2 separate regions of the Homo sapiens genome follow, and region 2 is linked to region 1. The links come from fine-mapping of genetic effects on plasma protein levels. A gene starts in region 1. The other region holds a variant in brackets. All regions are shown on one strand. Distances are between the middles of the regions. Region 1 holds the start of SPARC (secreted protein acidic and cysteine rich). Region 2 has its middle 26 kb from the start of ATOX1-AS1.

Region 1 (16,530 bases):
CCTTCATATAAATGACCAATATTAAACAAAAACTCCCTCCTTTGTATTTCTTTAGTCTGTGATGATGCATACATTTATCATTTTCAGGGTGTTTTCATAATCCAGCACCCCACTGGGGGCTCAAGTCACATATTTCTGCCCAATAGTACAGATGAGAAGACCAAGGCCTAGAGGAAAGGAGAAAACTGCCAACGGCTAACAGCAGTGAGTGAGTGACTGGGTGGCAGGGCTAGGGTGAGAACCCGTGCAACCCTACCCCACCACTGGTATGTCTCTACCTCTGCACACTATTTCCCTTGGCAGCTACCCGCTCCCAGGTGGTCACCTGAATGGGGCTCAGTTGGGCCTTGAACTGGCCTGAGTTCCTGGGAAGGAAAATGCCCAGGGCCAGGGGAGGAAGAGAAGGCATATTTCCCTTGGCATGGTGGCCATCAAATGCAGACAGTTTTAGCCCCCTCCCAGCCGCCACTGCCTCCTGTTCCGTACATCGAGTCCCTTCCTTTTGCCTTTATTTGCTCTGGAGACTGCTGAAAACCCGTCCTTGGCTGCCAGCAGGACCTGAAGCTGAGGTCACTTCTCTCTCTGGAAAGACTCTGAGGATGGAAAAGTACAGCCAGCCCCCAGGTTTGTCCCTCAAAACATAAAGGGCCTCCTTTGGGCTCTCCTTGGACGTTAAAAAGCCACTGAACGTTAGAACAGGGGGGATACCTCAGAATCATAGAATCATGGACTGTGGGTCTCAGAATGATAGACTTAGGATGTGAAGCAAAGAAACTGAGTTGCCATCATTAAATCTTATTTGGGTGGAAAGAACTTATGGAGTAATGCAACCCAACAGGACTTCCCAAGATGATGAACACATTCTATATCTACGTGGTCCACTATGATAGCTACTGGTTACAAGTGGTTACTGAATGCTTGAAATGTTGCCAGTGCAAATGAAGAACTGAGTTTTAAATTGTATTTCATTTTAACCAATTTTTTTATTTAAAAATTTTATGCAAAAGGACTGAGGCCAATCCAAAATATCTTACTTAACCCATACCTTGTTGAAATACTGCAATAGAGAATAGTGGAAAACATCTTTTTTTTTTTTTTTTTTTTTTTTTTTTGAGACACGGTCTCCCTCTGTCACCCAGACTGGAGTGTGGTTGGCGCAATCTCAGCTCACTGCAACCTCTGCCTCCTGGGCTCAAGTGATTCTCCCATCTCAGCCTCCCGAGTAGCTGAGATCACAGGCACTTGTGACTACACCCAGCGAATTTTTCTTTTCTTTTCTTTTTTGTAGAGATGGGGCTTCATTATGTTGCCCAGGCTGGTCTCGAACTCCTGACCTCAAGCCATCCGCCCGCCTCAGCCTCCCAAAGAGGTGGGATTATAGGCGTGAGCCACCATGCCCATCTATTTTAATCAACTTAAATCTAAATAGCCACATGTGGCTAGTGGCTACCATGGTAGACAGAGTGATAATAAACTATGAGGCAGTATAGCATAAAGGTAAGCTCATAGGCTCTGGAGCCAGAATATACAGGTTCAAATCCTGGCTCACCACTTAGTAATTGTATGACCTTTAGAAATCAACTTTACCTCTTGGGGCCTCAATTTGTTCCCCAATGTGTAAAATGGAAACAATAACATACCAATCTTTAAAGGCTCATGGGTGATTTACACAAGAGAATCCAAATAAAGAGGTAAGCAATGTTGTCGTTGGGAAGAGCATCTTATAAAGTCCGAGGTTCCCAGAATCTCCATCCCCCGAAAGAATTCAGTGCAAAATTCCAGTGCTTTATAAGCCCAGGGAGAAAGGGGTGTTTGGGTGGAACAAAGGACATATTGCCCCTGTTGGTCTGGGTAAGTCCAGCCTCCAGAGGATACAGTGACGAAGACCAGGCCCAGGGCTGGCCTCTTACTTGGGCAGCTGATACCAGCCAAGCATCTCACTCTCACTATTTGGCTTGGAAACAAGGGCTCCAAAAACACATGTTGCTGGTAAACAAGCCCAAAGAGAGGAAAACAAGCCTAGAGGCTAATAAAGGAAGCCAAGAGCCAGGCCCTCCAGGGAGTTGGGACTCGGAAGGAGCCTGGGGTCTGCTGACATGGGGACCGAGCCAGGCAGGCCAGAGAGGTGGCCACATGCAGCTACAATGGCACTCCTGCTCACACCCCTGGGAGCAGACACAGCAGCTCAGAGGTGGCCTCATGACGTGGAAGTCAGGAGAGCTGAGAGCAAGTCAGCATGTCTCCCAGCTCACTGTGCGAATTCAGGGGAGTCTCCTCTGCTCTCCAGAACTAACACCCCCAGCTTGTCTGTATAAGGTCAGTGCTCAAAATTATGTAAGCCAGAAAATCCTTTATTTCAATGAAGTCTTCTGCAGAGTCCGATATTTCAAACAGCTGAAATCTTTTAGCATGTACTGAACCATGTGAATGAGTATTATCTAGTTAATCAATAAGTGTGAAATTAAAAAACAAGAGCAGGCTGGGCGCAATGGCTCACGCCTGTAATCCCAGCACTTTGGGAGGCCAAGGAGGGTAGATCACCTGAGGTCAGCAGTTCGAGACCAGCCTGGCCAACATGATGAAACCCCGTCTCTACTAAAAATACAAAAAATTAGCCGGGCATGGTGGCGGGCGCCTAAAATCCCAGCAACTCGGGAGGCTGAGGCAGGAGAGTCACTTGAACCTGGGAGGCAGAGGTTGCAGTGAGCCAAGATTGTGCCATTGCACTCTCGCCTGGGCAACAAGAGTGAAACTCCCTCTCAAAAAAATCCACAAAAAAGAAAAGCAGATAAAAGTGGAGTGGAGCTGAGGAGTGGGAGTCCTACACACAGGGACATTCCCTAAGATACCTTGGAACATCTGTACTTTCTCCTAGGAACACAATATGGAACCCTTAGGCAAGGTGGTCCTTTAGGTTCTTTTCAGCTCTGATTTTCCGGATCAACTTGGGCAGAAGCTTTTTAGAGCCTTACCTCTCTCCACTTGCCCCTTGACTCCCTGCTTCCACTTCTATTTCCTGCTGGAAGGAAAGACGCTAAAGGAAACTTTTAAGGTGTGGTAGCTAAAACTTAGGACTGGAGAGCTTCTGGGGCAACTCAGAGGTGGCTCCAGAGTTTGGGGCTGGAATCAGCCCGAGATTCCATAAAGACATCTGAGATGCCACATTTCACTGTGGCTAGCAGAGGCTGGGGTGGAGCTTCAGGCTTCATCCTTGGCTCCCTCTAGGGCACCGCTGCTGCATTGTGGTGACCACAAATGAAAGGATGAGAAATAACATCAAAGTGTCCAGGCTATTGCATCTGGAAAAGCCTCCGAGATCCCAAAGATAGCAAATATGTGGCATATGTGACAAACACGTGGCCTCCACCTACCCCTCCTGCACATGTGGCAGACATTACTAATCAATCGCTTGACCTCTTCTCCTAAAGCTTAGAGAGTCATCAGAATCCTGAACACAGTTCTTCTGACAGCCACTACCGATGAATTAGTGATGTTGTCAGGCCACATGAAACCTCTGTGTGCTGCCTCTTATTGTAGAGGTAGAGAAATTGAGGCTTAGAGAAGGAAAATACCTCACTGGAGGTCACACGGCAAGCTGGTGTCTAAGCCAAATTTCCAGATGTTCAAAAACATCCAGATGTTTGCTTTGCTTTTTTTATCTGATAGGTCTGAAATCCTAATGCCATGACTAACATCAAGATGACCCAGAGTGATCCCCAGATGAGAGAAGTTAATACCAAGTTTCTGAAAGAAACCAGCTCTGACAACAATTGTTGTCTATGTTCATGTTTTCCTTGCAGACATAAAGTTCTATAGCTTGATGGGTGAGAGCAGAGATGATTTCCTGTCTAAGCTGCCAGTTGAGGAGAGGCTGTTTCTCTAAATAATTCCGTCAAGTCACTACTTGCTGGCCCTGGCCCTGCACAGCCCAGCTGTCCCTGGGTTCAGGATTGAGGTTGGGAGGGAGGGAGGGAGGGAGGGAGGCATCAGGGTCTGTGCTGTAGAAACAAGGTCCTCAGGGTTGCTGAAAGCTCAAGGCTGGTTTTCCCTTCTCTCCTTTGAAACTGACGTTTGGGAGGGAGCCAGCTAGAAGCAAGGGAGCAGCCGCCTACAGGCACATCATGCAGGGCCTTTGGGCCTAATGACAAAGCCACGTGGGCTGGAATAGGCATTGCAGGCCAGCCAACGGGAGAGACAAAGTGCTGCTCACCACTTAGTATCCATGGGGCTTGTGTGCATAAGTGTGTTTCCAAACTGAACAAATGGGGATTGGGGGGGAAGGCAAGGTGAATATCAAAATGGCTCCAAACACGTGGAAGTTTGGCTCAGACGCCAGCTTGCTATGTGACCTCCAGTGAGTTATTTTCTCTTCCTGAGCCTCAGTTTCTCTCTCTCTGAGACATAGAGGTGGTTGGTGATAAATGTAGGTTACACGTCTGTCTCATTGTCATGATCCATATTATGTTTGACTGTGCATATGTTTGACTGTGCACATCCATCCATGTGTGGCTGCAAGTGGCGGTGTGTGTTTGTATACCTGATGGCATGTCTGTGTAAGTTACATACAGCCTGACTTAGCATCTGTCTGTTTCAGCCTGTAATAGGCGAGGGTCAGAATTTTCACATTCATTGAGATATATTCCTGGAACTTGTCTGTAAATCATTGTCATCCAGGAAGAGGTGTGTGAGTGAATGACTTTCTGTGTCTGCTCCTGTAATGAGGCACTTATTTTTAGCTGAGCCAGTGGGTGCCTGTTGATGAAATCGATGTTTATACTCTTCATCCCTATGGGTTTGTACCTGTCCCTGTTTATCTCTGCATATTTATCTACCTACATAAACAACTTCAAAAGCCAAATATTCTACTGTTTACCTCACATCCTCAGCTCTTTCCTTTCCTTCACCATTCTTTCTTATTTATAGCTTGTTTTCAGCAAGGAAAGCTGCTCTCATGAATAGCAAACCCCAGCCACACTGTTGATTGACAAATCTCTACAGATGGATAAGGATTACAGCATGATGGTTATGCAACTCAAGATCCCCTAGCCCATCTTTTCTTGTTTTCTTTTCAACTGGGGGTGCAGTAAGGCGGTGTTAAAAATGCAGGCAAGCTATTCCTTTGAATAAAAGCGGTATCTGGGATTTAGGTTTATAGGACTTCAGAGTTAGAAGGGTGCCTGGGAAATCATCTAGCTTAGAAACTCTATTTAACAGTTTGGGAAACTGCAGCCTCAAGAGAGGAAGTGTCTTTCCCAATGTCAGGCACTGGGAGTTAGAACACACTTTTTTTTTTTTTTTTCACCCTTGGCCAATGCTTTTCCTACATAGAGGGCACAACAGTCTTGGGAAATACACAAGAAGTTCCCCAAATCAAAATGAAGATAAACAATATTATGATTTTAAAATTTTTCCTGTCAGTACTTCTAGTAAAGGAAAGTTCTATACAAACCCCAAGATGATGGAGCTGCCAGGAAAAAAAAAAAAAAAAAAAGCTGAGAATGATTTCACTAGGTCTTTGGATGCCTTTAATCCATCAGTTCTAAAACCCTTTGCATTATGAGGGAATGCCACAATTCGCAAAGTGCTTCCCTGTGCATTATCCCATTTCTTCTACACACTATCTACCCCCTAGAGGTGGCTGCTGTTACTGTTCTTTAACTGTAGAGGGAATGGGGCCCAGAAAGAAGTATTAGTTCAAGGTCAAATGGTACCTTCAGGGCACAGCCAGAGCTAAAACCCAGGTCTTCAAACACCCTTGCAAGGAGATTATCATGGCCCAAGGCTTCCCCGGAATCCTGAGAGATCACAAGGGCAGGGCCTAGAATTTGCTGCAGGCCTTGAATTTGGGGGTGGGGTACGTTCAGACTGATGTTCTTAGAGGGTTTCAAGGGTCCCCTCCAGCCAGCAGGCAGAGACCCTGAAAAAAAGGTTACCGTGGCAACTCGCATTCCTCGGAGAGTGAGTCAGGCAGAGAAGAGCCTTCTGGTGGGTGGGACTTGGAGAAAGTTTCAAAAGTTGATTCCTTCTCCAGGCAACCCCCTTCTTCTCCTCCCTCCCCCTCTTTGCTCTAGGCTATGTCGATGTGGCAGCTGATAGCTGAGAGTTAACTCTCTCTTTCCTCAACCACTCCCTTTTCAGAAGGCTTCATCCTCCAGCAAATACACACATTTGTTACCAGTCCTCACTCCATCCCCACGTCATGCCCTCTAATCCATTTGAGAATATCTTAAAGCTGAAAGCTGTGACCACCCATATTCATCCTCTCTCTCTCTCTCTCTCCCTCTCTCTCTCACACACACACACACACACACACACACACACACACAGTGCATACAATTTTTAGGGGCTTAGAGATGGCTTGAGGCCCATTCAAAGACCACTCCATAGACCCTGGTTAAGAAATCTTCCTTTGAATATTTTAGAGGACACAAAGCACCCCAAAGAGCCTTCAGTTTCAGCCTTCTTTCATTACAGATGGGGCACTAAATCCAGGGGAGACACTTACCTAAGATCACACATAAAATGCATGCCCGAAGCCTGTGTCCTACTTCTGCTTTGCTTCTCACTAAACCACCAGCACTTGGGGCGTATAGAAATTTAACTCTAAAGCATTACTAGAGAAAACATTTTCTCTAATGAAAAAAATGCTGTCCTTTCCTGAGGAAAATGCATGCCTCTCTGTTCCCTTTTGGGCAGACTGGGAATCCTGGAAGACATAACTCATCCCAGTGCCCCCCTTCCCTTGGAGTCCTTGGAGTCCCTTTCCCTAAGGAAGTCCACTTGACAGCCAGTTCACGGAGCCAGTGGCGGCGAAGAAAGGTAGTGGATTTGTCTGAAGAAGAACTGACACCCTGACAGGCTGGACACTAGTCTTGGGTGGATTACGGAAGGGGACCCTGGAATTCTCTCCCTCTTCCCTTCCCCCTTTCCCCCTTCTGAGAATATCTCCCCCAGCACACTCCACCTCCCATTACACCCATGTCTTGGTTGACGATATCTGATGTCTGGGTTTTCAGATCTAGATAAACTAAGGGCTACTGCCTGTGTTTACCATCCCAAGGAACTCAGGACAGGAACAACACCTAACCCAAGACTGAGGTTGTGATGGTGCCATTTCAGGCAGAATGGTGCTGAAATTTGTGTATTGGGGGGACGGAAGGTGGTGTTTGGGAGTGAGGAGAATTAGAGGAAAACAGAAGGCTTCCCAGAGGTGTGGATTAATGGTGAAGCCTCCCCCTTTGCCTTTCAGAGATCAACTGATTGTTCGTGCAAAGTCCCTTTTGGAAAACAGAACCCCTGACCGAGATCTGGAGGACAGACTCCGGTTGCTGGCCAGGTCCCTGTGGCAGCTGTGATGGGATCAGATTCCCAGGAAAGGAGGAGGCTGCCACATTTGCAAAGGGAGCAAAGAGGACAGGCAGGCAGCCTCTGAAACCAGAGACAGACACAGAGAAAAACAGAGAGTGAGAAAATGCTCCCCCGAAGACATAGTGAGATTATTTTCTGTAAACCTGTAAGGGAAGACAAAGTTACACAGTGAGTCCACCTTCTGAAAAGCAACAGGCAGACAGGACCGAGGGCCATGCTCTTAAGGGGAGCCGTGATGGAGCCGGGAGGAGAGGCGCATCCTCAGCAGAGCTTCCCTCCCTTGCACACGAGCTGACGGCGTGAACGGGGGTGTCGGGGTTGGTGCAACTATAGAAGGGAAAGGCTGGGCGGGGGTCACACATACCTCAGTGGCAGGCAGGCAGGCGGCAGGCAGAGCGCGCTCTCCGGGCAGTCTGAAGGACCGCGGGAATGTGGAGGGGTTTAGAGACAGGCAACAGGAAACCACTCAGAGCTCTGGGCTGGGTCTATCTCCCCTCCACCCCGTGGTCCCTCCTCCTCCTGTCTCCTCCTTCCCCCGGCCTCCTCCTTCTCCCATAGCCAAAGCTGTCTCTGTCTTTCATTTCTTTCCTCCTCTTTTTGCGGTGGGCTGTCCTGACCAAACGTCCCAACCCTGCCTGCCTCATCTGTTCCGGGGCTGCTGCCTAAACCGACTCACAGAGTGCCAGGGCTGGACAGGCCTGGAGGGATGACCCAGAACAGCCTCTTTCTTGTTCAGAGGGCAAGTGAGGCCTGGAGACTGCAAGGAATTACCCAATGGCCCCCAGGGGCAGAACCAGGCCCAAGTGTCTTGATCTTCTAACCAGTGAGCTTTACAGGAGTCCTCCCTAATATTAGGCAATGCTGAGAAGGGCCAAGCAATTCAAGGGGGTTGTATTTGCCACAAAGGCAAGGCCAGGACTTACCACTGTACAGACAAGACAAGCTGCTACTAGTGGTATCATCCTTGATGATTTGGAACTGGTCTTAAAAAAAAAAATCCCACTCAAACTCCACTTGTACCACTAATAGACACATAAGGGATTAGACATCTAGCTGGTGGACCTGTGCCACCAGTATTGAACAGATAAGGTAATTGATGATATTGATGATAATCATAGGAGTAACAATAGCCAAAGTTTACTGAGGATTTAATAATCTTCACAGCAACCCCTTATCTTAGGCATTGTAATTATGACCATTTTAATAATAAGGAAACATAGATGCTAAGTAACTTGCCTATGATCACCTGGCAAAAAGTGGTATGAGAGGGCTGATTCTACGTTTCAACTTGGGTCACTCCTGTTATATATGAACTGCTCAGTGCAACAGGTCTTGGTTGAATGTTTATTTTGTGCCTAACACTCTGGGAGGTATGAGAATTAATAAATACCTGGTCCTTGTCCTCAAAAAGTTTTGTGGTTTCCGGTTTTTTTGTTTGTTTGTTTTGTTTTGTTTTGAGACAGAGTCTCACTCACTCTGTCGCCCAGGCTGGAGTGCAGTGGTATGATTTCGGCTCACTGCAACCTCTGCCTCCCGGGTTCAAGCAATTATCGCGCCTCAGCCTCCAGAGTAGCTGGGATTACAGGCGCACATGCCACAACACCCAGCTAATTTATTGTATTTTTAGTAGAAATGGGGTTTCAACATGTTGCCCAGGCTGGTCTCGAACTCCTGAGCTTGGGCAATCCGAATGCCTTGGCTTCCCAAAGTGCTAGGATTACAGGCGTGAGCCACCGCACCCAGCTTAGCTTTGTGGTTTCTTAAATTCTTTTTTAATTTTTTTAGACGAGTTAAGTGCAGAACTGAGAAGGGAAAAAAAGTACAAGGAATTCAATCTGTGACTGTGAACAATCAATCGAGATAACTCACTATTCAAGGAGCTTTGGATCTTGCTGAAAGGTTGTGCCTTACACATACACCCACTTACATGAGTGGTACAGACTCTAAGGCTTATCCCAGGGCTTCAGATTGGTGGATTCCTGAAAGAGGTGGACCTGGAAGCATGGGTTGGGTTTGAATACCATGGAAAGGAAGAAGGCAGAGAACACCCTCATGATACACTTCCATCCGCTGTGGCCCCTGTCTCTCTTGCCATTCTCTCCTCCTACCACTGTCCTCTGTGCCCACGCTGCTCCAGCCATGCCAACTTCCTTCCAGTCCTTCAACTACCCCAAAGCTTCTCCCACCCCAGGATTTTTTTTTTTTTTTTGAGACAGACTCTCACTTTGTTGCCCAGGCTGGAGGGCTGTGGCGCAATCTCAACTCACTGCAACCTCCACCTCCTGGGTTCAAGTGATTCTGCTGCCTCAGCCTCTCAAGAAGCTGGGATTACAGGCATGCACCACCACACCAGGCTAATTTTTGTATTTTTAGTAGAGACAGGGTTTCACCATGTTGGCCAGACTGGTCTCGAACTCCTGACCACAAGTGATCCGCCCGCCTTGGCCTCTCTAAGTGTTGGGATTACAAGTCTGAGCCACCATGCCCAGTATCTTTGCATTTGCTCTTACCTCTGCCAGAGACACTCTTCCACCTGATTTTCCTGTGCCTATTCTAATGTCACCTCCTTAGGGCCACTCAATCTACTTGCCTCTCTCACAGGCACAGTTCATCGCCTTACACTGTTTTATTTCCTCCCCATCACCTGTCATTCTCAGAAACCATTTGTTTCCCCAACTAGACAGAAGCTTGGTGAGAGCAGGGACTTCACATGTCTGTTTACTGCTTTGTTCCCAGCATGTTGACCAGTGCCCCACACAAAGCTGGCTTGCAATATTTTATTCAATAAATATATGAACTTCCGACTTGCCCATCTGAAAAAAGAGAGGGTTGTCTTTTACTAGGGTTCCAGCCTGGAACACTGCCCCACACCCAAGAGACCCTCAAACCACTAAAGTGGAATATAAAAGTTAGGGTGTTTGGTCCTTTTGAGAACCTAAAGGAAGCAATGAACTTTCTCTGCAGAAAAATCCACAAACACCCAAGAAGGAGTCTTCTCCAAATGACCCCCAAGGGCCGGGTGCAGTAGTATGTTCCTGGAGTCCCAGCTACTCTGAGGCTGAAGCAGGAGGATTGCTTAAGGCCAGAAGCCTGAGACTAGCCTCGGTGACAGAGCAAGATGCTGTCTGTAATAATAATAAAATAATAATAATAATAATAAGGCCAGGCATGGTGGCTCACTCCTGTAATTCCAGCCCTTTGGGAGGCTGAGGCAGGTAGATCACCTGCGGTCAGGAGTTCGACACCAGGCTGGCCAACATGGCAAAACCCTGTCTCTACTAGAAATACAAAAGAAATTAGTTGGGCATCATGGCACGTGCCTGTAATCCCAGCTACATGGGAGGCTGAGGCAGGAGAATCGCTTGAACCCAAGAGGCGGAGGTTGCAGTGAGCCGAGATGGCACCATTGCACTCTAGCCTTGGAGACAGAGCAAGACTCCGTCTCTAAATAAATAAATAAAGACCCCCCAAGGCCTCTCACCCTGGTTCAAAAGCCAAGTGCTTTTGGCTGCTGAATACAGGGTGCTGGTGGACTCTCCACATATCTGTTTTGCCATCCGGACAGATGTATATTTTTATAGGATTGGTTGCTATAGCTCCCAGGCATTATGGGACTAAAATTAGCAGAAGCTTTGTATTTTTATTCATAAACTAAAATGATGATTCTGATGAGGATGAACCAGTGGAACTCTTCCCAGTTTTTGGCTGGTGTTCCCATGTGGCTTTCAGTTCAGGAAGTGGAAGTCTGGTTGGGGCTGGGCTGAAGCTCTGGAAGAGAGATCCCTCCTGAGGGCCACTTCCAGGTCTCTGTGGGGACACCCTGAGCCAGAATCACTCCCAGAAAGAAAACTTGGTAGGTTTTATATCTAAGGATAAGAGCACATGGCTGGGTGCAGTGGCTCACACCTGTAATCCCAACACTTTGGGAGGCAGAGGTGGGTGGATCACCTGAGGTCAGGAGTTCGGTGACCAGGCTGACCAACATAGTGAAACCCCGTCTCTACTAAAAATACAAAATTAGCCAGGCTTGGTGGCTCACGCCTGTAATCCCAGCTACTTGGGAAGCTGAGGCAGAACTGCTTGAACTCAGGAGGCGGAGGTTGCAGTGAGCTGAGATAGCACCATTGCACTCCAGCCTGGGCAACAAGAGTGAAACTCCACCTCAAAAGGCAAAAAAAAAAAAAAAAAAAAAAAAAAGCATCCTGGGGCAACAGGAGCCTCTGAAGCAAGGATGACTCTGACCTAGAAAGGAAGACCACTAGGACTAAGGCTGGTCTTCCTGCCACCTGCCAAGGGCTTTATAGGAAGGGAGAGAAGCACAACGCAGCCAGGTGTGATAGACCTGGGTGTGAGTCCCACTCTGCTATTGAGTCACTGAGTGACTTTGGGCCCATCCCTGCCCCTCTGAACTACACCTTTTCTTTCTTTCTTTTTAATTGTGTTAATAGAGGCAAGGTCTTGCTAGGTTGCCCAGGCTGGTCTTGAACTCCTGGCCTCAAGCAATCCTCCTGCCTTGGCCTCCCAATGTGCTAGTATTACAAGCATGAGCCATTGTACCTGACCCTACACCTTTTCATTTATAAAATAGGTTGGACAGCAGAATAGTAGTAATAAGAGCCAGCATTTATTAAACACCTACTATGTGCCAAGCACCTGCTAAGCTCTTTGCATATATTGTCTGACTTAACTCTTATAAATCTGGAACTGTTATTATTCCCATTTTATAAATGTGGAAAATGAAGTTCATATCAATAATTTGCTCAAGCTTATGCACCAAGTATATGGTAAATCAGAGATTCAAATCCAGGTTTAAGGGACACCAGAGCCCAAGTGCTTGACTACTGCACGCTACTTCCCCCTCAACTCCTCTCCAGCTCTGACATACGTGGACTTCAGACCATACACCCCTCTCCCGAGTCAAGAATGTTGCTGATCCAACATTAGGCTGAATCAGCTTTTCATCTTGTAAAGCAATCCATCAGTATATTGGGGTCCCTGCTGCCTGCCCACTGCCCTCTCCAACCACTCTCCAGCTATGCTCTTCTAGGCACTTCTCACTTTACCCTGATCCTGCCCTCCTGACCTAGCACCCCAGCCACAGCCTTAGAACTCAAGGGACTGCCTGGGAAATGTCCACATGTGCCTGCCATCCAGGCTCCGTACACCCCCAGTACATCAGCTACCTCGTTCGTTCATTCAGTCTTTATTGTGCTTTGCATCAGGCACTGGGGATATAGCAATAAATAGGACAGACAAGGCTCTGCCCTCTTGCACTTTACATTCCAATAGGTGAAGGCAGGCCGTGAGCTCATTTCAGGTTGTGATCAGTTCTATGGAAGAAACAAGGAAGATGAAATGAAAAAGCAATGGAGGATGACTTCAGATAGGGTCATTAGCATAGGCATCTTGGAGGAGGCAAGATGAGGAAGATGTTGAAGCATGAGTCAATGAGAAGGGCTGAGAGAAGAGTACTCAAGGAGAGGGGAGAACAAGCACCAAAACCCTGATGTGAGGAGAGCTTGGCTTTTTCAAGTAACTGAAAGTGTGGCTAGAATTACCTACTGGGGGAGATTTCCCATCTCCTCCCGTTCTTCCTCGTCCTTTTCTCCTCCATTTTCCTGTTGTTCATTCCTACCCTTTTTACACCCTTTTAGCCACTTCAACATACTTTCTTGTCCACTATCTCAGTGAATGCCACAGCAGTCCTGTGAAAGAGTTAGGGTAGGGATTAGAACCTATAGTGTAGATATGGAGAAACTGAGGCCTCTATCACTCAGGGAAGCTGGGGCTCAAAACCAGGTCTCCTGACTCCTGGCTAAAAACCAGATTCTTAACCACACCAAGAACCTGCTTGTCTTTCTGCTCACTGACTCCAGAGACTCTGTCACTAGCTCTGAGACCAGCCTATGGACCACCTGATGAACCATCTCTGGGAGCTGGACTGGGGCCAGGTAAACTATTCCTACACAGGGACAGGAATACTTGCACAGGGAGCAAGAGGTCTGAACTCTGGAAATAGAGCAGGAAGGCTCTGTGGATTTGGCTTCTGGCAAGGAGGAAAGCAACCAAGCATAAAGTTAAACAAATAAAAGCCGGACAAAGAAACATCCCCTAAGGCCATGCATTAAAAACAGCATCGGGATCTCAGCAGTTCAGATCTCCAGGTCATAACTCCTGAGTGAGCCTTTCGGGTTAAAAAAACTCAACAAAACTTACATAGGAGAACTTGAGGGCCCATGAGGGACCAGGTTTCATTGGAGCAATTGTCACTAAACTGAGAAGGCAGACAATCATATTCAATATTACAAAGCAGATGGTGGGCAAAACACTTTATGTCCATTATCTCATTTAACTCAACAACACTTATGCAGAATATTTGTTTTTCTATCATTACTATAGTAAATTACCACAAATTTGGTGACTTAAAAACAACACAAATTTATTATCTTATAGTTTTGGAGGTCAGAAGTCCTAAAATCAAGGTGTCGTTGGGTTCCTTCCGGAGGAAGGATGAATCTGTTGAGGAAAGAATCTGTTTCCTTACCTTTTTGTTGTTGTTGTTTTGTTTTTTGAGACAGAGTTTCACTCTTGATGCCCATGCTAGAGTGCAATGGTGCAATCTTGCCGCACCGCCACCTCCACCTCCCGGGTTCAAGCAATTCTCCTGCCTCAGCCTCGAGAGTAGCTGGGATTACAGGCATGTGCCACCACATCTGGCTAATTTTGTATTTTTAGTAGAGACAGGGTTTCTCCATTTTGGTCAGGCTGGTCTCAAACTCCTGACCTCAGGTGATCTGCCTGCCTGGGCCTCCCAAAGTGCTGGGATTACAGGCATAAGCCACTGTGCCCTGCCTATTTTCTTACCTTTTTCAGTTTCTAGAGGCCACCCTCATTCCTTGGCTTGTGAACCCTCACTCTGTCTTCTAAGCACATCACTCCAACTCTGCTTCTGCCTTGACATCTTTTCCTGACTTTGACCCTCTGGCCTTCAACTTTTAAGAACCCTTGTCATTACATTGGGCCCACCTAAATAACCTAAAATAATCTTCCCACCTTTAAATCCTTAAATTAATCTGCAAAGCCCCCTCTGCCATGTAAGATAGCCTGTTTATAGGTTCTGAGGATTAGGGCACGTCCATCTTTGGAGGGGCCATTACTTTGTCTACCATAGATGGGTACAATTACCATTCTCATTTTAAAGATGAGTAAAGAAAAGTTCTGAGAACTAAATCACTTGGTCAAGGTCCCACAGTGGAGAAGCCAGGAACACACACAGGTAGCTCCACTCCAGAGCCCTCTCTCCATGACTTCCCCAGGTACTCAACTGCCCATTCTGCCCTTCTGGCCATGGCTGCCTCCCTGCCCCCACTGGCCCCAAACCCAAACCCATTCATCCTTCAAGCTCAGATTGGATCGCTTCTATTTTTTCAAAGCTTAGAACTGACAGGGCCCTTTAGCCCTATTCAATCCCAGATTTTCCATGTGTGGCTGGGAAAATTGAGGTTTAAAGAGCCCAAGGTTACAGTGTGGACAGCTAGGCCTGGGGCCTCTCTCTCCCAGGCTGAAGCCAGCTCTGGCCTGTTCCAAATCTCCGGAGGGAGGGACTGGGCAGGCTGACCTCTTTGGGATGGGGATTATGTATCAGAACTCTCAAATATACCCTTTGTGTGGCTGGCTGAATGTCAAGGCTGCCAAGCTAAGAAGGTTCAAGCACATTGGAGGCTGACTCAGCCTGTTGCCTTGTTACTGTATCTTTCCCCAGGCAGCCCTTCCCATTGTCTGAAGGGCACAAAGAACCCATTGTCATCTGGCCCTGGGTCCCCGAAGCAGAGCATCCACCAACCAGGCCAAGGCCAAACAGAGGAAGATGAAATTTAACCTCAGCACCCTCCCCACTTGCAACACACCCACTGAGCAGTTGAAGGTTTCTCCTTTAGCTCTTTGTAGCTCACAAAGGACTTTTTTTTTTTTTTTTTCTGAGACGGAGTCTCGTTCTGTCACCCAGGCTGGAGCATAGTCGCACAATCTTGGCTCACTGCATCCTCCACCTCCTGGGTTCAAGCAATTCTCCTGCCTCAGCCTCCTGAGTAGCTAGGATTACAGGCGTGTGCCACCAGGCCTGGCTAATTTTTTGTATTTTTTAGTAGAGGCAGGGTTTCACCAAGTTGGCCAGGCTAGTCTTGAACTCCTAACCTAGTGATCTGCCCACCTCAGCCTCCCAAAGTACTGGGATTACAGGCGTGAGCTACCGTGTCTGGCCCACAAAGGACTTTTATCACCCTAATCTTATTGAGTGGCACATTTAGTCTACAAAGTAGAAAGGTCAGGATTCACTAAGCCCATTTTGGGCTTGGGCGGGCAGACAGACAGACTTGCCCAAAGTCACACAGTTGGCCCATGGTGGGGCTGAAATGAAAGCTCCCAAACTCTTAACAGTCAAGACTCTTTCCACTGCACCCACTGCCTCCACCCAGGGTCCCAGTAAGAGTTTACCAAGGCACCGCCTTCTCACAGAGGCTCCCTCTCCACTGAGGTGACAAATGTTAATAATGCGTTGGCTGCACCTTTTCATGTTGACATGTTGACACAAACCCACTGGTCTTAGTCTGTTTTTGTGTTGTTATAACAGAATACCTGGAACTGGGTGATTTATAATAAACAGAAATTTAATGGCTCATGATTCTGGAGCTGGGAAGTCCAAGATTGAGGACTAGCATCTGGCAAAGGTCTTCATGCTGTATCATGCCATGGTAGAAGGGCAAAGAGAGGGAGAGAAAGAGAGCAAGAGATAGAACTTGCAACCTCAAACCCTAATTGATGTTAATCAACTCGTAAGGGCAGAGCCCTCATGACCTAAGCATCTCCCGATAGGCCCCACCTCCCAACACTGCTGCATTGAGGATTAAGTTTTCAACACATGCTTTTAGGGGTACATGTTCCAACCATAGCATCACCCGAGGAGAAAGAAGCACTCATTTGAGTTCTGATTTGGGTTCTTCCCTTAGTAGGACCTGTGCCCTGAGGCCCTGCTTATACTCTGACCTTAAGCAGCTCACTTTTCCTTTCCAAACCTGAGTGTTCTTATCTGTAAAATGAGCATGATTAAAATATTTCACTCTCCTGGGTACAAAGTCAGTGTAAGATTCAAGTGAACATAGATTT
Region 2 (15,733 bases), 40 kb after region 1:
TTTTGAACTCCTGGTCACAAGCCATCCTCCTGTCTTGGCCTCCCAAAGTGCTGAGATTACGGGCATGAACCAGTGTCTGGTCAAAATGGAGTTTTTTGTTTTGTTTTTGAGACAGGGGTCTCGTTCTGTTGCCCAGGCTGAAGTGCAGTGGCACGAACATGGCTCACTGCAGCCTCAACCTCCCAGGGTCAAGTGATTCTTCTACCTCAGCACCCCCTAGTGGCTGGGACTATAGGTGTGCACCACCATGCCAGTTAATTTTTAAATTTTTTTAATAGAGCCTGTTGCCCAGGCTGGTCTCTAACTCCTGGGCTCAAGCAATCCTCCTGCCTTGGCCTCCCAAAGTGCTGGGATTATAGGCGTGAACCACTACACCCAGCCTGAAATGGAGTTTTCTATGAATTATTAATTAGATCCCTTTTAATACTCTTAGAGATATAAAAATGAAGATTGTAGCACTTTTAAATGATTTGTAACTGTAACACTTTGTTTTCTTCAATGTGGCTCTTCACAGACTGGGCCATGTGAAGCTTTGGGATTTCCCAGGGTCATGTTCTTTACAGAGGCAGGAGGTCAGCTCTACTGGTTCCCTCACACTGTTTCAACTTCCCTGCCCTCTAAACAGGCTGCACAGCATCCTCCAGCCCCAACTATCCTCTCAGAAGAGTTGTCGGAATAAGGACAAAAACAACACCCTCTGTCTCTAGGTCCTTCTGGAATGTCTTCTAAGATACAAAGTCTCCTCTCAGGCCCGTTAGCTCATCCCACCCTCCCTCCACCTCTGTCTGGATTAAAAGCCTTCTGTGCTGGAGGACAAGGAGAATCCTGAAGAGCCAACTAGCTGAACTGCTAGAGTTGCTCCAGTGATTCTCCAAAGTGCCTCTTATCCTGAGACTTTCCTGTTGTCCAGGAGACCCAATGGATGTTTCCCCCAGCCCCTTTGCCTAGGGAAAAGTAAGTGATAGCAGGCAGGAAGGCCTTGCTGCTGTAGTGCCACTGTGCACAACCTAGAAAGCTGCAGCAAAGAGAGACTTGAAGGTTGCTTGGGCAGCTCCCAGAGATGGCACTGCTTTTCAGGGAAGTTGTGTCTCAGGTAGTGACTATTTGGGCCAGTGCTACGCAGGTGGTAGAAAGAATTTACCAAGACAGTTGTAGGTCAGCAAAGCAGATTTGTTAGAGGAAGTATGAAAGTATGTTGCAAGGGTGCAATGGGTAAGTCAGCAAGAGAGTAGCTGACTGCAAGGAGTCAAAGGCTTGCTGGGGATTTTTTAGGATGGTGCTTGTGCTGTGTGCTGAAGAGGGCTTTGTACAGTACAGATAATGCCAAGGTTGCAGTGAGCTAATGTACATTATTCTATCAGCCGAGGTGTCTGGTGATAGTTGGGCACAGGAAGATTGTGAGTTATTTGCACAGGAGGGCTATGTGTCCTGGACCATGAAGAAAGGCAGATGTATAGCTTATCTACTTTTTCTTTTTTCTTTCCCCTGCTCCCACCAGCCTGACTCCTTTTCCCTAATTAGGACTCCACAGGTTGTGGTCCCCACTACCTAGGGTCATAACCTTTGCAGGTTTTGAAGCTCCGTCTGATCAGTTTGCAGTGTTGGGGGATTGCTGCACAGAGAAAGACAGATGCTCCTGGAAAATACCAACATGTCCCATCCCCCTCATCTGGAGGATGAGCTTTTGCACTAGCAGAAAGTTTGTTTCTACACCTAAAGCCATATTATTCCCTATGCCAAGGTGTTGAATTAGACATCAAGAGGTTGATGAAGGAGTACAGAATTGGAGCAAAGGGTGATCTGAAGGGATGTGACATCTAAGTGGTGTGATGAAGTGTTCCTGCTCCCATAGTAAAGTCTGTCCTCACACAGTGGGAGGCAGTAGTTCTTAGCATAGAGGCTAAAGTGTAGTCTCTGCCGTGCATTGTATGCATTCAAATTCTGATCTATTCTGAGTAACAATGTGGCTCTGGGCAAGCTACCTTTCTAGGTTGCAGTTTCATCTGTAAAATGACAAAAAAGAAAGTATCAGAACAAGTTGGTACTAGGCCCAGTCCTGCTATAAGTTGCTGGTCACGTCAAGTAAATCTCTCAGCCTCTCTGGATCCATGCTTCCTCCTCTGAAAAATGAAAAGGGTTGAATCAAGGGTAGACTCTTCTACTACAACAATCTCTGAAACTGTGGAGGGAAAGTCTGAGCCACTCCCCACTAAGAAGCTGTTACTGCTTGGATGCCTGAGTTTTCAATGCCTCAGTAAACTATACCACCTCTGGGGAACTCCCAGCCCAAGGGGGAAGACTGCTGAATGACAGAGCGCTTTTCATGATACTTGGCTAGGGCTGTGCTAACTTAAACAATGAGCACAGTTCTCAGTCCTGAAGGTAACAAGAACACCCTTGCCAATCTCCAGAGAGGAAAACCTCTGTAAGCTCATATATGTGGGCAGGACTTCCACAGAATTCTGGAATGTCAAAGCTGGAAAAGCTCTCAGGGAGTTTCTAGTTCAGGGGTTTTAAGTCACATTCTGTACTTCTGCAGTTCCACAAACTATTAATATTCACCTTATTTTGTATACCAGAGACTGCATTTAAAACTGTGGCTGCAAAACAACAAAGACACCTAAATCAGTCATCTGTCAAATGTGAACACATCAGAGACCAAAATTCATTTATACATTGTGGCAGATTTTGCTAGTGGTCCCCTTTCCCTTTGTTGTAGAAACTACACTTGAGTGGGGCCATAGTGCCCTGATTAAACTACATCTCCCAGCCTTCCTTGCAGATAGGTAAGGCAGTGCAGTTAAGCTTTAGTCAGTGGGTTGTAAGCAAAGGTTGTGAGTGTGACTTATGGGAGTTTTCTTCAAGTGAATGGGAATGCTCTTCTCATTCCTCTTCTAGCTAGCTCTAATGTGGACATGATGGCAGAACTCAATCAGTCATCTTGGACTTTGAATTGATAGAGAGAAGGAGGCTTGGTCCTGATGATCACTGAGTTACCTTGCTGACTCACTTCCCTACAGTGAGTGCCCTGGACTGCTCACCTCCAGATTTCATTTACATAAAAGAGACATACAATTCTGTCTTATTGAGGCCACTTCTATTTGGGGTTTTCTGCCTTTTGCAGCTAAATCTAATGGACACATTTGTGTTCTCAGTAATTGACTTTATAATGCATTCATAATATAAATATAAAAATAGCTTACTGAATAACCCTAAGGAAAACCACTCAGGTCAAGGAAACCACTCAGGTCAAAAAATAACATTTTGCAGCCACCCCAGAAGCTCTCTGTGTGCCCTGTCCCAATCACAACTACCTCCTTGCTTCTAAAAGCAACCTCTGTCCCAATTTGTATAGTAAACATATCCTGTTATACAGTAATGACATAACATTTCCTTAAAAACATTTTGGTCAGAGACTACTTTTATCTGTTTTATTTGAGATGCTCCTTAAGACTTTGCTTGACAGAAGGCTTCTTCTAATAAAAAAGTTGGCCAATAACTGAAATAGTCTGACCCCTTCATTTTACAGAGGAAGAACATGAAGTCAGAGAGGGGAAAGAACTTCCTTATTTTAAAACTGACAAATAAAAATTGTATGTATTTATGGTGTACAACATGATGTTTTGATGTATGTATATATGCAAAAGGATTTTCTAATGTCAACCAGCAAATTAGAGGTAGAGTGGACTAGAACTCATGTTCTCTCTGACTTTTTAACATTTTAACATTTTATTTTCCAATCCATTTCAGGGGAAGCAATCCTAGATACAAGGTACCAGCCTTGTGCAATGGCTCAAGGATGGGAAAGACTTGCAAATACAGTCTCTAGTACAGGACATTTTATCTTCAACAAACACAAAACCTGCCTCTTTCCACCCAAATCTCAGGGGAAGGATGCTACCAAGGATTCTGACAATGGTTCTTCCCAGATGGCTTTGCATTTTAACACAAACACATCAGCAAAGATGGAGTCAGACACAGAGTGACACAGTGGGGATGCCGATTGGATGAAGTGATCTTTGTAGGCCTCCTCAGAACCCTGCACCAGGGCATCTCCCCCATAGCTACTGTGTGCCCTGAGCCTGACACACAGAGGCCCTTGGAGATCACTGTGGCCAAGGGTGATGCTGAGTCTCGAGATCAGAGGTGTGAAATGCAGAGATGCAGGCGAGCCCCAGCTCTCTTTGCCATCTTTGCTAGACTGTTCTGACCAGCATGCGGCTGCACCTAACTCAATTTCTGGAGAATCCTTCATGCTCATGAAAGTCAATTATTTATTTATTTTTAAGACAGAGTCTCACTCTACTGCCCAGACTGGAGTGCAGTGACACAATCTCAGCTCACTGCAGCCTCCACCTCCCAGGTTCAAGCGATTCCCCCACCTCAGCCTCTAAGTAGCTGGGACTATAGGTGCCAGCCACCATGCCTGGCTAATTTTTTTGTATTTTTAGTAGAGATGGGGTTTGGCCATATTGGCTAGGCTGGTCTCAAACTCCTGTCCTCAAGTGATCCATCCCCCTCGGCCTCCCAAAGTGCTGGGATTACAGGTGTGAGCCACCACGCCTGGCCAAAAATCAATTATTTTATATTATGACAGATGCCCGTCATGCTTTTGTGTAGGACATGGCAGTGTCCAAGATAGCTCACTGGCCAGATTCCATAGCCTTCTTTGTCTCAGATTCTTGGAAGTTTTTGGGTCAGGCCTATTGGCTTCTCCCTTTTCCTATAGGTTAGAATTAGCAGACAACATTAGCAAAGATGTGACTGTGTGTTCTGTGGGGGAGAAAAAGGTGTTCCAAGGACTAAAAACTTGGGAAACAAGTTCATACTTTATCTCCTTTTTGAAAAGTCTCAATTACAGTATTAGTACCTTGAAGGATCTGCAAATTTCTACAGTAAATTATTTTGCTTGATTTTGATGGGCCTGGCATTTTTCAAACTTTTTTGGCTTTGAGACCTCATGTTTCACTAATAGCATTCTGCACGAAACAGTTTGGCAAATGATACTAGCCGCCTCTTTGATGGATAAAGGATGTATTAATACACATAGGATAGACAACATGGCTGGAAAATCACCTTTCTGGCCCAGGTAGCCATCCCTCTGGAAAAGTACTGCATTATCTCTGACTCTGTAAAAATCCATTTCTAATAGCCCCAAGAAGCCACTGCAGAAATGATCTAAACCAGTCTGGGATGGGTTCCCCAGGGATAGCTGGCTGGGCCCTACAGCCTGGCACCAGACTTATTGTACCAAGAGCCCTGGCCAGCCGGCAGCCACCCAGTGTGTGTCTTGACTTGTTTTTCCTTCCTTTCTCTCCTCCTTTTAGAAGACAGCTGAATGGTTCCAGTCTTTCAGTCCTGCTCCTGGCCAACACTGGACCTCTCAAAGTCTAGCCAACTCCTCTTCCAGCGCCTTGATAAACAACCCCCTCATGCTGGGAACCACAGCAGTGGGCTGTTTTTCTCCCTCATGCACCCCAGGAAGCCTCTCCTCTTTGCCTGGGCTTTCTTCCCAAGGCCTTAGCTGCCAACCCATTTTACACCCATGCGAAGCCCAGTCAGTCACCTGAAGAAAAGGAGACTCACAGAAGGCCCAAGATGAAAGACTCTTTAATCCTGTGGCTTTTTGAGTTTTGTTTTTAGCAGGAAGACCTTATTTTCAAAACAAATTGTTACACAGAATTTGCCAGTTTACAGAACAGATGAATAAAGACATTTATGGCAGACTTGTTTATTGTAGCACAACACTGGAAAGACACGAAAAGTCCATCAGTAAGGAACAGATTTAATAAGATGATGGTGAAGTCATACAATGGAATACTATTCTGCTGTCTAAAAGCGTGAGGCACCTCCCAACAATAATAGCACAAGTTCTGAGAAAATCTTTACTTTATATGGACAGTATTTGGTTAACAGTTCCATTTTAGGGCAAAGACCAAGATTACTACTTGTTTTGTTAAAATGTGCCACCTCCTATTCAAACTTGTCCAATGTTTATTTGGAACTTAAATATGGTGACCAAATATCCCAGTTTGCTTAGAACTGAAGGGTTTCCTGGGATATAGGACTTTAAGTGCTAAAACGGAAAATTCCAGGCAAAGGAATGAGTTGGTCACCCTATACTTAACAGAAGTCAACATGTTATTTTAGAAAGAATAGGTAGATTATTATTACTAATTTTAGCCCATGTTAATAAGCCAATATATTCACAAATAAAACAACCAGTATTTGTACTTTACTTATTTATTTTTATTTAATTTTTTTGAAACAGAGTCACACTCTGTTGCCCAGGCTGGAGTGCAATGGTGGGATCTCGGCTTACTGCAACCTCCGCCTCCCAGGTTCAAGCGATTCTCCTGCCTCAGCCTCCCGAGTAGCTGGGATTACAGGCATGTGCCACCAGGCCCAGCTAATTTTTATATCTTTAGTAGAGATGGGGTTTCACCATGTTGGTCAGGCTGGTCTCGAACTCCTGACCTCATGATCTGCCCACCTCGGCCTCCCAAAGTGCTGGGATTACAGGCATGAGCTACCACACCCGGCCAGTATTTGTACTTTAAATACGAGGGCAAAACCATATGAACTGATACGAAACATGAAACTATCTCAAGGTGCAGTAAAAAGTGGGGGAAAAGGCAAGTACAGAACAGTGAACTGAGTGTGCTCTCATTTTTTTAAGTTCTTTACTCTCTCTTTCCCCCACCCCCAAAGGTCAGAGCAGGGGGGGATTTGTCCACATAATAAAATGAAGTTTGTGACTTGTCTACTCCATCATAAGAAAATAGCTGGGCTGATTTTCACCAAACTTGGAGGATATACTTGGGGTGGTCTGACTTAAATACAGATTGTTTGGCATATGAAAATTGATCCTAGTAACCCTTCCTCCTGGAGAGGAAACTTGAAGAGATAAGCAGCCACTCCCCAAAGCTGACGCTAGTTTAACAGACAAGGCCTATGAGATCACCAATCAGAAAAGACTAACCAGGCCGGACATGGTGGCTCATGCCTGTAATTCTAGTACTTTGGGAGGCCGAGGCGGGCAGATCACCTGAGGTCAGGAGTTCAAGACCAGTCTGGCTAACATGGTGAAACCCCGTCTCTACTAAAAAAAAAAAAAAAAATTAGCCAAGCATGGTGGCAGGCACCCGTAATCCCAGCTATTTGGGAGACTTGAACCCAGGAGGTAGAGGTTGCAGTGAGCCGAGATCGCACCACTGCACTCCAGCCTGAGTGACAGCAAGACTCCATCTCAAACAAGAAAAGAAAAGAAAAGAAAAAAGAAAAAAAAGAAAAGACTAACCAGATAGCTTCAGGTCCGTTGACAGGGAAAACAAAGACTGGTTTCCAGGGAGTCTCCAAAATAAAAGCTCACAAAGTGGACTCTCCAGATGGAAGGCCTCAGTCTATAGGCTGCCTCCCACATGGGTGGGTGCAGTCAGATGTCCATGTGTGTAAAGATGGCTCATGGTTTTTCTGAATTAGCTGGGCATGGTATGTACCTGTAGTCCCAAATATGCAGGAGGGTGAGGTGGGAGGATTGCTCGAGCCCAGGAGTTTGAGGCTGCAGTGAGCTATGATTGTATCACTGCACCTAGGCAATAGAGCAAGTCCCGAAAAATGAAAAATGTTTTAAAGTGGTTTTTCTGAAAGGAGCAGCTCTTTTGGATATTAAGTCTTTCATTTACATAGACAATTCCTGAAAGATGCATATGAAATGGGTAATAATCAGTGTCTCCGAGGAGGAGAACCATGGGTCTGAAATGAACAGAATATATTTTTTATTATGCATCCTTTTGAGTTGGCAATATTTTCCATGTTTATATGTCAAGTCCTTTTTTAAAAAATTATATTTTAAACTTACAAAGAAACTACAGAGATAAAGTTAACACCTTCTGGCTTTGACAAATCTTAACATTTTGCAATAAATAGTTCAGACAGACCTCTGTTAATAAACAAAATGTGTGTGTGTGTGTGTGTGTGTATATATATATATATATATATATATATATATATATATATATATATGATTGAATCATATATATAATTGAAACCCAGTCCTATTCCTCATTCTCCCATACAAAAAGAAGTAAACAATACCTTACATTTGGAGTTTATCATTCCTATACATATTTTTTACTTTTAACACATATGTATGCCTCCCCAAATGATATATTTAGATTTTAAATTCTGACTGCTATATTGCCTGATGTATAAATACAGTGTGATATAATTACTGCTTTTATCTTTTCAGTCTCCTTTGGATGGATATTTGGGTTTTTTTTTTTTACAATTTTACATGTATGACTTTTTTTTTTTTTTTTGAGACAGACGCTTGCTGTGTCACCCAGGCTGGAGTGCAATGGCACAGTCTTGGCTCACTGCAGCCTCTGCCTCGCAGGTTCAAGAGATTCTTATGCCTCAGCCTCTCGAGTAGCTGGGATTACAGGCGTGTGCCACCACACCCAGCTAATTTTTGTAGTTTTAGTAGAGATGGAGTTTCACCATGTTGACCAGGCTGGTCTCGAACTCCTGGCCTCAAGTGATCCACCCATCTCAGCCTCTCAAAGTGCTGGGATTACAGGCGTGAGCCACCATTCTCAGCCTACATGTATGACTTTTGTGATTAAAAAAATAATGGGTGCAACAATAATCATCAATGTCTGCTAAAACCATGAGTTGAAGAGCTGATGGGGAGTTTATAATGGATGGACTAGGCTGACAACATCTGAATCCATCCATCCATCTTGATATTACACACAGAAAGACAAGCAGATATTATGTGCTGCCTGATATGATATAAGAGGATTTCATAGCACCGTCTATGAAAGATTGTCAGCAAAAAATCAAAGGTGGTTCTGATGAAGTATAAACCTAACCACCATTTTACAGGAACTTGAGGGGACTAAGGAACACATTGCATTATGGGGTGCACTCAGTAAAATCCAGAATTACAGAAGACCCTCCTGCACAGAAGACCCAACTTCCTCAACAGATAATTTGCGGAGAAAAACAAAAAAGGGCAGGAGTAGGGTTGCTACAGACTGAAAGACTTAAGAAACATCAATCAAATGCAATGTATGGACTTTGTTTGCATCCTGATTTGAACAAACCAAGGGCTTAAGAAAAGAATAAATAAATAACAATAGAGGAAATTTGAGCACTGGATATTTTATGATATTAAGAAATTTGTATTAACTTTTAGGTGTCATGATGGATAGGTTTTTTTTTTAAATCCTATCTCTCAGAAGAAATACAATAATACAAAAATTAGCCGGGTGTGGTGGTGTGTGCCAGTAGCCCCTGCTACTCAGGAGGTTGAGGCAAGAGAATTGCTTGAACTCAGAAGGCAGAGGTTGCAGTCAGCCAAGGTTGCGCCACTGCACTCCAGCCTGAGCAACAGAGCAAGACTCCATCTCAAAAAAAAAAAAAAAAAGAAAGAAAGAAAAGAAAAGAAAAAAGAAATACAATAATAAAATTAAATGATGCTGGTGTTTGTTTCAGAATAACCCTGTGTGGGGTGGGGGCGGGCAGTGGAAGATGCACCGAAACCGGCTATGACTTGGTAATTCTTGAAGCTGGGAGATGAGTGTATGGGGTTCATGATATTATTCACTTTACTTTCAGATATTTTTGGAAACTTCCATAATAAAATATTTAAATAAAATCCAGCTAGTTAATTTCTTTTTTTTTTTTTTTTTGAGATGGAGTTTCACTCTTTGTTGCCCAGGCTGGAGTGCAGTGATGTGATCTTGGCTCACTGCATCCTCTGCTTCCCGGGTTCAAGCTATTCTCCTGTCTCAGCCTCTGGAGTAGCTGGGATTATAGGCACATGCCACCATGCCCGGCTAATTTTTGTATTTTTAGTAGAGACAGGGTTTCACCATGTTGGCCAGGCTGGTCTTGAATTCTTGACCTCAGGTGATCCACCGCCGCGGCCTCCCAAAGTGCTGGGATTACAGGCATGAGCCACCGTGACTGGCCTCAACTAGTTAATTTCAACAAATAAGAGGTGTAGTCTTGGTAGGAAGATGCCAGGGGTTGGAGCCCCACTCTCAGTTCCTCCCTTTTCCCTGAGGTACCTGCACAGAGCCTTAGGTCTCTGTAGAACAGTTTGAAATCACTGATCTAGACCATGGATTATTGGGGGAACCAGCCCCCAATATTTCAATTTCGGTTCTTTATATTTTCCCTAAGTGTCGGCCAGTCTGAGAAATAAAGAGAAAGAGTACAAAGAGAGAAATTTTACAGCTGGGCCTCCGGGGGTGTCATCGCATATTGGTAGGACTGTGATGGCAACCCCAAGCCACAAAACCAGCAAGTTTTTATTAGGGATTTTAAAAGGGGAGGGGATGTACGAACAGGGAGTAGGTCACAAGGATCACATGCTTCAAAGGGCAATAAAAGATCACAAGGCAAGGGCAAAATTAGAATTACTGATGAGAGTCTGTGTCCCGCTGTGCATGCATTGTCTTGATAAACATCTTAACAGGAAACAGAGTTCGAGAGCAGACAACTGGTCTGACTAGAATTCACCAGGCTGGAATTTCCCAGTCCTAGCAAGCCTGAGGGCACTGCAGGAGACCAGGGCATATTTCAGTCCTTATCTCTACCGCATAAGACAGACATTCCCAGAGCGGCCATTCATAGACCTCCCCCAGGAATGCATTCCTTCCCCAGGGCTATCAATTATTAATATTCCTTGTTGGGAAAAGAATTCAGCGATATTTCTCCTACTTGCACATCCATCTATAGGCTTTCTGTGAGAAGAAAAATATGGCTCTATTCTGCCCAACCCCGCAGGCAGTCAGACCTTATGGTTATCTCCCTTGTTCCCTGAAAATTGCTGTTATTCTGTTCTTTTTCAGGGTGCACTGATTTCATATTGTTCAAACACATATGCTTTACAAACAATTTGTACAGTTAACGCAGTCATCACAGGGTCCTGAAGTGACATGCATCCTCAGCTTATGAAGATGACAGGATTAAGAGATTAAAGTAAAGACAAGCATAGGAAATCACAAGGGTATTGATTGGGGAAGTGATAAATGTCCATGAAATCTTCACACTTTATGTTCCGAGACTGCAGTAAAAACAGGCGTAAGAAATTATAAAAGTATTAATTTTGGGAACTGATAAATGTCCATTAAATCTTCACAATTTATGTTCTTCTGCCGCGGCTTCAGCCGGTCTCTCCATTCAGGGTCTGTGACTTCCCGCAACAATGGACAGACAATTTTCTTCTGAAAAGGGCAAAATAGTAAACAGTCTAGGCTATGTGGGCCAAATGGTCTTCGTTGCCATTCTCCAACTCAGCTGTTATAGTGTGGAAGCAGCCATAGATAATACAAAAATGAATATGACTGTGTTTCAATAAAACTTTATTTACAAAAACAGATGGTGGCTTGATTTGGCCTGCAGGCTGTCGTGTGCCAATCTTTGATCTAGACCAACCCCTTCATTTGTTTTATTATTATTATTATTATTATTGAGACAAGGTCTCAGTCTGTCACCCAGGCTGAGTGCCGTGGTGTGATCATAGCTTCCTGCAGCCCCAGTCTCCTGGGTTCAAGCAATCCTCTCACCTCAGCCTCCTGAGTAGCTAGGACTACAGGCAGGTGCCACCACCTGGCTAATTTTTAAAATTTTTTTAGAGTTGGGGTCTCACTATGTTGCCCAGGCTGGTCTTGAACTCCTGGCCTCAAGCAATCCTTCTGCCTTGGCCTCCTAAAGTGTTGGGATTACAGGCATCAGCCATCATGTCCAGCCTAACCCCTTCCTTTTAAAGTTGTGGAAACTGAGACCCAGGCGGTTAAAGTGGCTCAAGATCACACACACAAACACACACACACACACACACACACACACACACACACACACACACACCAAAAAAACCAGGACCTTGTGAAAGCAACTGCTGCAGATCCCAATCTTGACTTTAGGCCTGCGTATCTTGGTATTATGGGCAAATGAAAGCAAGCATATGGCAGGTGGGTGGAAGAAATCAGGGAAGCACAAGCTTATGTATCAGTTAGTGTTAGGTTCAGCTGTATGTATATACCAGTAAGCTCAAAGTAACAGTAGCTGTAACAAAAATGAAGATTATTTCATTCTCACATAGAAACAAAATCTGGAAATAGTTTAAGGCTCATGTATAGAATCCATCATCTTCTAGCTAAGTGCCATGGTGCATACCTGTAGTCTCAGCTACTCTAAAGGCTGAGGCAGGAGGATCACTTGAGCCCAAGAGTTTGAGGTTGCAGTGAGCTATGCCCTCAGCACTGCACTTTGGCCTGGGCAACAGAGTGAGACCCCCATCTCTAAAAAATAATAAATTAATAATAATAAGAAGAATAATCTTTGGAGACCCAGGTACTATCCTTAGGCCACGGCTTCAAGTGCTAAGGAAGGTGACATCATGGCCTGATACGGCTACTAGATTACATCCTTATTTCAGGCAGGAGGAAGAATAAAGAATGGTGAGGGCCTTCTAATTGCATCAGCTCATTTTAAGGAGTCTTTCTGGAATTTATTTGCATCGCATTAGCCAGAACTTAGTTATATGTCACACTTAGGGGAACAGGAAACTAGGGAATGTCGTCTTTATTTTAGGTTGCCATGTGCCCAGCCATAAATTACTAAGGAAAAGGGGATGAAAGGCTTTCCTTCTCTCTTCCTTCCTTCCTTCCTTTTTCTTCCTTCCTTCCTTTTTCTTTCTTTCTTT[CTCTTTCTTTCTT/C]TCTTTCTTTCTTTCTTTCTTTCTTTCTTTCTTTCTTTCTTTCTTTCTTTCTTTTCTTTCTCTCTCTCTCTCTCTCCCTCCCTCCCTCCCTCTCTCTCTCTCTCTTTCTTCTTGAGATGGAGTCTTGCTCTTGTTGCCCAGGCTGGAGTGCAATGGCGCGATCTCGGCTCACCACAACCTCCACCTCCCAGGTTCAAGCGATTCTCCTGCCTCACCTCCCAAGTAGCGGGGATTATAGGCATGCGCCACCACACCCAGCTAATTTTGTATTTTTAGTAGAGACAGGGTTTCTCCATGTTGGTCAGGGTGGTCTCAGATGATCCGCCAGCCTTGGCCTCCCAAAGTGCTGGGATTACAGGCATGAGCCACTGTGCCCGGCCGAAAGACTTTTGAATAGAAAATTAGCAGTCTCTCTCACAAGTTATTTGAATAAACTGAGTTGGTCCTCTTCACCTGAAAAACGCCAGGGGTGTTTAATGACCATGACAAAGCAGCATGAATTAATGGAAGGAGCACCCCAAGCTGCTCCCATTTCCCTATGTGAACTCAGACAAGTACCTGCACTTCTCTGTTGCTTTACTTTAGCCATATGCACAGTGAAAGGGCTCTAACAGTTCCACTTGTAGGATTTTATTCCTAGGAAATACTGAGTTACCTGATACCAGACCATATACACTTTAATAAGTTCTGGAAACAACCTATTAATAGATCATTCTATCCATCTGAGTTCAGTTGTGGGGCACAGGCACGACCTGAGCTCAGAAAGGGACTTCATCAGGTGCTTACAAAAGGATTGGAAGGGCAGGAGGAAGGGGCTGAGGCTGAGCTTCCAGCATTATGACTCTCAGAGCAGTATAGGTGAACTGGCTACCAGAGGGGCAGCCACATTGCCCCATCAGGAGGGCAGGGAAGCAGAGGGTGGCTGCTGGACTATGAAGTTCAAGTAGGCACTGCCATGGCTGTGATCCAAGGGGTCAGGAAATCACAGCCACCAGCACCTCTCAACACGTACGAAACTAGTGACTAGACACGGGAACACTGCTGCCAAATAACCAATGTCTCCATGCTGGGCTGGAACAGCCAAAATCTGTGGGACAATGGCTTTTCCTGATTTCCACCTTCCAAATCTAGCAGGAGTGAACCTAATCAATGAAACTTAATTTTTTTTTTTTTTTTTTGAGATGGAGTTCTGCTCTGTCACCCAGGCTGGAATGCAGTGGCACGATCTCAGCTCACTGCAATCTCCGTCTCCTGGGTTCAAGCGATTCTCCTGTCTCAGCCTCCCGAGTAGCTGGGATTACAGGCTTATGCCCCCATGCCCAGCTAATTTTTTGTATTTTAGTAAAGACAGGATTTCACTGTGTTGCCCGGGCTGGTCTCGAACTCCTGAACTCAGGCAATCCACCTGCCTCGGCCTCCCAAAGTGCTAGGATTACAGGCGTGAACCACCGCGCCCGGCCAGTGAAACCTAATTTCAATGAGAAACTTAACTACCAGGAAATTAGGTTCACGTGGGGCTTGGCCTTCCAGCCTCATATGTGGGAAAGCACACAGGAAAGAGGTTGGAATTGATGTGTAGTGCCGGTGAACTATATGCATGCACCACTCTGTATAAATTAGCTAAACAAATTAAGGTGCATTTGCACAGTGGAATGCTTTCCAGCCACTAAAATCAGTATTTTTGTAACCAATAAATACTTTCCAGTCACTTAAATGGGCAAGAAGGGACAAATCTTCTTAGAATTCCAGACAACATATTTCTCCCTTCGGGGAGTGGAGTTTATTTCCATATGCACCCTTGAATATGGCTGGACTTAGTGACTTGCTTCCTGAGAATAGAGAATGAAAAGGAAAAAATGGTAAGTTTCTGGACACAGATCCAATCCAGTGTACCACATCGGGTTTAGTCATCAGGTCTTCTTAATCTTCTCTGATCTTTGAGAGTTTTCCAGGAACCTCATGGCCAGGAGTTTGCCAGGAACCCTAACATCATCAGTAATAGATCATGTCAGTATCTATGCACCCCCTGAGACAATGAAATAAGATGGAGACTTTACCTCTGTGTATGTTCCTCCCCCAACTCCAGTTTAATCGTGAGAAACATGCCAGACAAACCAAATTAGAGGGACAGGCTATATAATACTTGGCCAATAGTCTTCACAACTATTAAAGTCATGAAAAACAAGAAATGACTGCTAAACTCTCAAAGGTCAGAGGAGATGAAGGAGACCTGATGACTAAAGGCAATGTGGTACCCTGGATTAGATCTGTGGCCAGAAAGAGAACACTTATGAGAAAGCTGGTAAAATCCAAATAACATCTGGAGTCCAGTTGACACTGTACCGGCCAAGCAGTTGCTCACACCTGTCATCCCAGCACTTTGGGAGGCCGAGATGGGCAGATCACCTGAGGTCACAAGTTCGATTCCAGCCTGGCCAACATGGCAAAGCCTCATCTCTACTAAAAATACAAAAATTAGGTCGGGAGTGGTGGCTCACGGTTGTAATCCCAGCACTTTGGGAGGCCGAGGTGGGTGGATCACAAGGTCAGGAGATCAAGACCATCCTGTCCAACATGGTGAAACCCTGTCTCTACTAAAAATACAAAAATTAGCTGAGCATGGTGGTGCGTGCCTGTAATTCCATCTACTCGGGAGGCTAAGGCAGGAGAATAGCCTGAACCAGGGAGGCGGAAGTTGCAGTGAGCCGAGATAGCGCCACTGTACTCCAGCCTGGTGACAGAGCAAGACTCCGTCTTAAAAAAAGAAAAAAAAAAATTAGCCAGGCAGGCTGAGGCGGGAGAATTGCTTGAATCTGGGAGGCAGAGGTTGCAGTTGAGCCAAGATCACTCTACTGCACTCCAGCCTGGGCAACAGAGTGAGACTCCATCTCAAACAAAACAAAAACCAATGTGCCAAGGAGCTTTGGTACCAATGTACCAATTAGATCTTAGTTTTGACAAATATGTCATAGTCATATAACACATTAACATCAGAGGAAG

Evidence for each region. PIP is the posterior inclusion probability: the model's chance that the variant is causal. Sun 2018 read protein levels with aptamers (SomaScan).
Region 2: its variant is fine-mapped to the plasma level of the SPARC protein (Sun 2018, PIP 0.95).

Annotation. Positions count from the first base shown.
Region 1 is chr5:151,679,133-151,695,662 of GRCh38, forward strand. SPARC (secreted protein acidic and cysteine rich) reads right to left here and starts at 7,783. Exons shown (of 10, transcript NM_003118.4): 1 at 7,733-7,783. It overlaps CLMAT3 (colorectal liver metastasis associated transcript 3), which reads left to right. Exons shown (of 5, transcript NR_109873.1): 2 at 88-204; 3 at 524-624; 4 at 6,697-6,819; 5 at 7,250-8,778. RefSeq lists enhancers at 5,236-6,065, 6,894-7,723, 7,724-8,551.
Region 2 is chr5:151,719,238-151,734,970 of GRCh38, forward strand. No RefSeq gene overlaps it. Among named protein-coding and RNA genes, the nearest start is that of ATOX1-AS1, 26 kb to the right of the region's middle. RefSeq lists silencers at 31-325, 1,257-1,366, 2,197-2,397, 2,857-3,057 and enhancers at 1,609-1,788, 1,859-2,118, 2,379-2,448, 2,469-2,518, 10,204-10,740. The variant CTCTTTCTTTCTT/C (reference allele first, on the strand shown) is at 12,722.